Linked DNA regions of Homo sapiens: region 1 is reported to be linked to region 2. Evidence: microRNA targets listed by miRTarBase, many of them from high-throughput screens and not tested one by one. Region 2 holds a microRNA gene; the other region holds the end of a gene's coding sequence.
What was found. The annotated mature microRNA hsa-miR-668-3p reads UGUCACUCGGCUCGGCCCACUAC and lies in region 2 at 2,242-2,264, opposite strand. An mRNA with a match to its seed (bases 2 to 7 or 8) in the 3' UTR can be bound and repressed. Matches are read on the target gene's strand: a 7mer-m8 pairs with bases 2 to 8, a 7mer-A1 pairs with bases 2 to 7 and ends in A, and an 8mer does both.

Region 1 (3,347 bases), not on the chromosome of region 2:
CACCTGTAATCCCAGCACTTTGGGAGGCTGAGGTGGGTGGATCACCTGAAGCCAGGAGTTCAAGACCAGTCTGGCCAACACGGTGAAACCCTGTCTCTACTAAAAATACAAAAATGAGCTGGGTGTGGTGGTGCATGCCTGTAATCCCAATTACTCAGGAGAATGAGGCACAAGAATCAGTTGAACCTGGTAGGTGGAGGTTGCAGTGAGCCAAGATAGTGCTACTGCGCTCCAGTCTGGAATGAAATTCTGTCTCAAAAAAGAAAGTAACATATGGGAAAAAGAGAACACCTAGACCAGATTTACGTCAGAAAGATTTTGTCGTGGAGGTTAAATAGTAGGTTTGTGTGATCTCTTGACTTAATGGATAAGCTAGGTTTAACCATTATTGAGAACTGTTGATATATAGTTAGTAATAGCTTTGTGACTAAGATAAAATCAGAAAATGACCAAAATGGTAGCTTTCTAAATGTTGATGTTAGTGGTAGTCTGAAATCCTCTACCTTTGTACCTTCAGATTCTTTTTTTTTTTTTTTTGAGATGGAGTCTGGCTCTGTCACCCAGGCTGGAGTGCAGTGGCAAGATCTCCGCTCACTGCAAGCTCCGCCTCCCGGGTTCACGCCATTCTCCTGCCTCAGCCTCCCATGTAGCTGAGACTACAGGCGCCCACCACTACGCCCGGCTAATTTTTTGTATTTTTAGTAGTGACAGGGTTTCACCGTGTTAGCCAGGATGGTCTCGATCTCTTGACCTCGTGATCTGCCCGCCTCGGCCTCCCAAAGTGCTGGGATTACAGGCGTGAGCCACCGCGCCCGGCCTTTTTTTTTTTTTTTGAGACGCAGTCTCACTCTATTGCCCAGGCTGGAGTTCAATGGCACCCTCACTGCAAGCTCCGCCTCCCGGTTTCAAGCAATTCTCCTGCCTCAGCCTCCTGAGTATCTGGGATTACAGGCACGTGCCACCACACCCAGCTAATTTTTGTATTTTTAGTAGAGATGGGGTATCACCACATTGGTCAGGCTGGTCTTGAACTCCTGACCTCGTGATCCACCCACCTCAGCCTCCCAAAGTGCTGGGATTACAGGCGTGAGCCACCGCGCCCAACCTCAGATTCTCTTAATAAGCATAGTTCTAGTATCACAAAATGTTTATGTCACATGAAGGCATTTCACTACTCATACAATCTGAACATAAGCATGAAACATGTCTTCCTAATCTATTTATAGGTTTAAGTTCTCCTGTCCTCCTCCTTTAAAGGATTAACCTTGCTTCCAGCCAAAGTTCATTAAAAAATTCTTTATTTAGTATATTCTGTCACTCAGAGAGTAAGCTTGATAAACATAGGTTGTTTTAAAATATTATAGTAATGGTTTATTGATAGGTAATTTGGTTAGTAGAGTTATAAATACAAAAAGGGAAAGGTTACCAGAAATAAGACATTATTTCTAACAAATCTTCAAGAAAATCTTGATTATTAAAGTCCCTTTTATCTTACAAGTGTTGCATATACAGTTTTGGCTCTTCAGAGCCCTCTACCAATAAGGCACCTGCAATAGTAGATAATTTGCTACCGCAGCCTTAGAGAGCAGTTCTTAGAGGTCTGCTGGTGCTTCTCTTGACAAAGCACACTTTTTTTTTGTTTCCCCCGAGACAGAGTCTTGCTCTGTTGCCCAGAGTCGGAGTGCAATGGCATGATCTCGGCTCACTGCAACCTCTGCCTCCTGGGTTCAAGCAATTCTCCTGCCTCAGCCTCCCAAGTAGCTGGGATTACAGGTACCCACCACCACGCCCAGCTAATTTTTGTATTTTCAGTAGAGACAGGGTTTCACCATGTTGGCCAGGCTGGTCTCGAACTCCTAACCTCGTGATCTGCCTGCCTTGGCCTCCCAATGTGCTGGGATTACAGGCGTGAGTCGCCGTGCCCAGCCAACAAAGCGTACTTTAAAAAAAAAAAATTATTTTTTATTTTTTTAATTTGAGACAGAGTCTCACTCTGTCACCCACGCTGGAGTACAGTGGCATAATCTCGGCTCACTGCAACCTCCACCTCCTGGGTTCAAGCGATTCTCCTGCCTCAGCCTCCCAAGTAGCTGGGATTATAAGCATGCACCAACACACCCAGCTAATTTTTGTATTTTTAGTAGAGACAGGGTTTCCTCATGTTGGCCACGCTAGTCTTGAACTCCTAGCCTCAAGTGAGCCACCCGCCTTGGCCTCCCAAAGTGCTGGGATTATAGGCATGAGCCACCATGCCCAGGCCAAAGTGCACTTTTAATCAAGACAAACAGTCACACATTTATGTACATCCTAAAGTCCTAGTATAAAAACTGCGACTGAACTGATGGACTAGAATAAAAATAATAAATCCTTAGATCCATGCCAGCCTCTCACAAATTATCTGAATTTCATAAAAATATGAAGTGTTAACACAGAGATGGAATGGCAACAGACTTTATGAAAGCTCACACAGTGAAACTAAACAAAATCTCAAGCTGTGGTGTGGAGCTATTCTGTTACCAGGCAGCACCCCCTCACCATATAAATAGCAGCTAGCTACTGGTTTCTTAAAGCCAAACTAATGATGGTTTTGAAGAGAACCTTGTCTATTGCCCTACTCATGACTCAAAACGGAAGACTTTTCCTGTCTCCTGATCCTTTTTCTTTTAGCTTATTTGAGAAGAGCCCTGAAATGAGAAAAGATCATTGAGTGAAATATAATCTCCTGAAGTATCATCTCCTTACTGTAGATACCCCTAACAACAACAGGAGGCTTTGACTCAGCCACATTCCAACAGAGGTTCTAAGTCAGTATCCTGTAAGGTTTCCATAGTCCTGGAGAACTTCACGCAAACTTCTTCTTGGTGGCTGTGAACCTCTCCATGTACTAAAAAACATGAAAGAATACATAAGGGGTATTTTGGCATGAGTAAATAAATATAAGCCTAACTATTTTTTTTTTCATTTTGGTTTTTATTGCATGTGGTTTTTCATTTCCTACAAAATATAACTGCTGTAAATGCAAAATGAATTACATAGTTTTGGCCAGGTGCAGAGGCTCACACTTGCAATCTCAACACTTTGGGAGGCCAAGGTAGGTGGATCGCTTGAGCCTAGGAGTTTCAGACCAGCCTGAGCAATCTACCAAAAATAGAAAAATGAGGCATGGTAGCGCCTGTAGTCTCAGCTAATCAGGAGGTTGAGATGGGAGGATCACTTGAGCTGAGATCCTGCCACTGCACTCCAGCCAGGTGACAGAGTGAGACCTTGCCTCCAAAAAAAATAAATAAATAAAGCACATAGGGCCGGGTGTGGTGGCTTACACCTGTAATCCCAGCACCTTGGGAGGC
Region 2 (3,408 bases):
AGACTTTTATACCTAGTTAAGCTGTCCCTTGTGCATAAAGAGATATATACTCTCAAATGCACAGGAACTCAAGGGTAGTGTCTATGAGCTATTCTCACAGAAACAATAAGATCATTTCCATTGAGAGATAAATTAAACTTAAAAACTAAAGAACGGAGAAACCTCAGTTAAAAAAAAACAAACCTTGTGGTCAGAAATGAATTCATTTAAATATAGAACTATGGCAAAACACCTGCAAGAATTATAGTTCTAGAACAAATTGCAGATATTTATAATGTAAAATTAAAATGTATAATTGAGAAAAAGCAGGAGATAGTAAGCAAAGGAAGAATAAGAATGCTGACTTCTTTATCTTTCTGAACTAGGAGTGAAATTGAAATAGTTAAAAACCATAACAATCCTAACCACTTAATTTTTACACTCTAATTTTTCTTAATTTTACAGGGATCTTTTAGGAGTTGCTACCTGTGGTGGTAAAGCGAGAAACATTTATCAATCATTTCAATCTCCTTTAGCTTGTTTTTTATGATAAATTCAAGGAAAATTATAGTTAGCATTTTTAATAAAATGATTAGGTACAGTGTGATCTCATATTTTCCCTGCGTCTGTCTTGTTTTTCTATTTGCATGTATGCTCAGACAGGTGTATGAAATTTCTAAAGCCCTTAATGGTTATTTCTGGGTGCCAGAGAATTGGGCAATTTTCCTTCTTTTTCATTTAGATTTTTCCACATCGCTTGAATTTTATTAAGCATGTGTCATTTTCATAAATATGGTAATAAGGTAGAATAATTATCCTTTTTGAAAAGAAAAACAAGAAATTGAAAATGCAACTGTCTTCTGTTCTTAAATTTGCTGTGGCCTCCAGATCAACAGATGTGGTGAGTCACCCTTCCAGTGAGTCCCCAAGAATGCTGAAATCAACGCCCCTTCCCTGAATTTGTCAACATGTCTAAGAAGTCCTTCCTCCATGGTAAGATTTAATAGTGAAAGAGAAGAGAACTATACATTGTTTTTCTTTAAAAAAAAACACAAAACCCCAGAAGCATCATGGGCACCACCACTTCCTCAGTCACAGAGGGGTCTTGAGCACAGATCACATGCTTCTTCCCCAGGAATGCACTGGCTGAGGATTAGGAGTGCTAGCAGCACCTACCCATTGGTTCCAGGGCCACACACATGTTCAGTTGCACTGGTGTGGAACCAACATGAGTATGGTGTCCCCTAAATCGGCATCAGGTCCAAGAAGACACCTGGTGAGATCTGATACCGAAAAGAGGTCGACCGTGTATTGGGCATCATTAAATAATGCGAACTCACCACGGACAACCTCCCTCCGAGTACCATGAGGTGGCACTGCTCGCAGCATTCCTGCATCTTCTGCACAGCCTGGGCAGCTTGGGAGTGGCCTCTGAGGGTGGATGGGACCCTGAGGATGAGTGGACCAGGTGGCTCAAACCCATGCTCTCCGGCCAACCCCAGGTTCACCAAGCCAGGATTAGTGTGCACAGAAATACCACTTCTTGTGCTCAGCTGGCCATGCAGGCAACATTTAATAATGCAAGGATGTCAGTGGCACAGGAGTCATTAAATATGAAGCAAACCACACACAAATGTGTGTGCAAAAGCAGGCTAAGCACTGCCTCCTTGGTAAACCTGGGATTCCCTTACAGGAATTCTCTGGAGGGTGTAAGGCTGCTGTGGGTTAGTAAACCAGGGGTCGCACAGAGTCCTGTTCCTGTTTTCTTCTGTATCCCGACGGCTGACTAATAAAAGATGCTTCTAGATGCCCAAGATTCAACTCCAAGGTTGAATTTGATAGGAATAAAAAAAGAAGTCAGCCATGTGTATTTCAATCTTAACTTTTAAAAAATTAGGGCATCCCAACAACCTCTCTCGATTTTCCTAAAGTTGGTAGTGCCCCAGGAAGTTGTTTTAGGGTCAGCTTGGACTCTAAAGTTAGTAGGTCAGTTACATGCATCCTCAGGAAAATGCTTGCCATGGGGTCAGCCATCCAGAAACCTACCTTGGAAGCAGCACTGGCTCAGGAAGCCCTCCGAGGCAGAATTTGACACTAAAAGAGAGGAGAGCCGTGTATGACTCGCTTTGATGAATCGAATTCATCACGGCCAGCCTCTCTCCAAGTACCACACATGAACACTGGTGAGAAATCCATTGCCTCTCTGGCAGAGGTGGCCGCCCTTCTCGGGAGTCCTGTTAGGAATGGGTGGGATAGTATTGGGTAGTGGGCCGAGCCGAGTGACATACACCCACATTAAGTGCATGCTCACCCGAGGCGCACTTACCTTAAGGGAGTGCTGAGGGCACTGCCTTCTCCCCAGCAGCAAGGATGCAGTTCGTCCTTCCAGACAAGACAGGGAGCTTTTGCGTAGCTCACTGGTCCCTGACAGGAGAATCATGGCCGCTTCCCAAAGCCGCATTATCTCCATGGAGCCTCCTAGGGAGAGACAGGATGCTGGGTATTAGAGGACGACGTGACAGACCTAACAAAGGCAGCACATGCTCTGGGAAGAAGGATTCAGTCACACACCCAGGAGAAAAGCTGGCCCACATCAGGTCCCTCAACAGAAGACAACATGGCGTCCCACATCGGAAGTCAACACTTCAAGGAGGCTGTCACAGTGGTGAAGGGGCTGCCAAGGCTGACTCATTGCATTTTAAGTAAACATACACCCCCAAGAGCACGTGTCATCGCAGTCCACCAAGCAGTCACAGCAAGTCCATGGCCGCTTCCCCAGAGTTGGTGGGAGCTCTGGAAAGTCTTCCTGGAGTGGGAGTGATGCTGAGGGTTGGTGACTAGGTGGCCCACAGGGTGAACACAGTGCATGCCCCTCTGGTCAACCAGTCACACACCCTGGACGGTGCTGACACCAACATCTCTTCTGGAAGTCGGCCTGGGGCCCAGGGAGCCTCTCTTCAAAGTCTTGTGAGGTGACGCTGGTGACAGAACCACAGCTGATTCCCCAGAGTTGGTGAGACCCATGGGAAGACCTCCTATAGGTGCATGGGAGGCTCGGATTATCGGGCCAGGTGACTTACAGCTAGGTCAGCGCATTGTCCATGGCCCGCCATCCATTCTTGGCTTTTCCACATGGTTGACACAAAGACTATCTTTCCTGAAGCTGCCATTGTGTCCAGGAAGTCCTTAGAGGTAGCATTTGGTACTGAAAAAAGTGTTGTCCGTGAATGATTCGTCATAAGTAAAGCGAATCCACCACGAACAACTTCTCTTCAAGTACCACAGAAAAGCAGAGACAAGACAGACAAGGAGTCCCCTTCCACTTCTCCAAGGGGAGTGGCTGCCAACCACCATCCTGTGGACAGAGTGGACACCGAGCATTAGTGAGGCAGCTTACGGGTGTCCTAGGAACACACTGGAGTTTGGGCA

Region 1: miRTarBase lists LRRC57 as a target of hsa-miR-668-3p. Seed matches in the 3' UTR shown: 8mer at 1,313-1,320.

Annotation. Positions count from the first base shown.
Region 1 is chr15:42,541,241-42,544,587 of GRCh38, forward strand. It overlaps LRRC57 (leucine rich repeat containing 57), which reads right to left. Exons shown (of 6, transcript NM_153260.3): 6 at 1-2,884. The coding sequence ends at 2,843. Among named protein-coding and RNA genes, the nearest start is that of LRRC57, 5.9 kb to the right of the region's middle.
Region 2 is chr14:101,054,156-101,057,563 of GRCh38, reverse strand. MIR668 (microRNA 668) reads right to left here and starts at 2,306; the gene lies at 2,241-2,306. MIR382 (microRNA 382) reads right to left here and starts at 3,258; the gene lies at 3,183-3,258. It overlaps MIR134 (microRNA 134), which reads right to left and starts at 2,877; the gene lies at 2,805-2,877. It overlaps MIR485 (microRNA 485), which reads right to left and starts at 2,145; the gene lies at 2,073-2,145. It also overlaps MIR323B.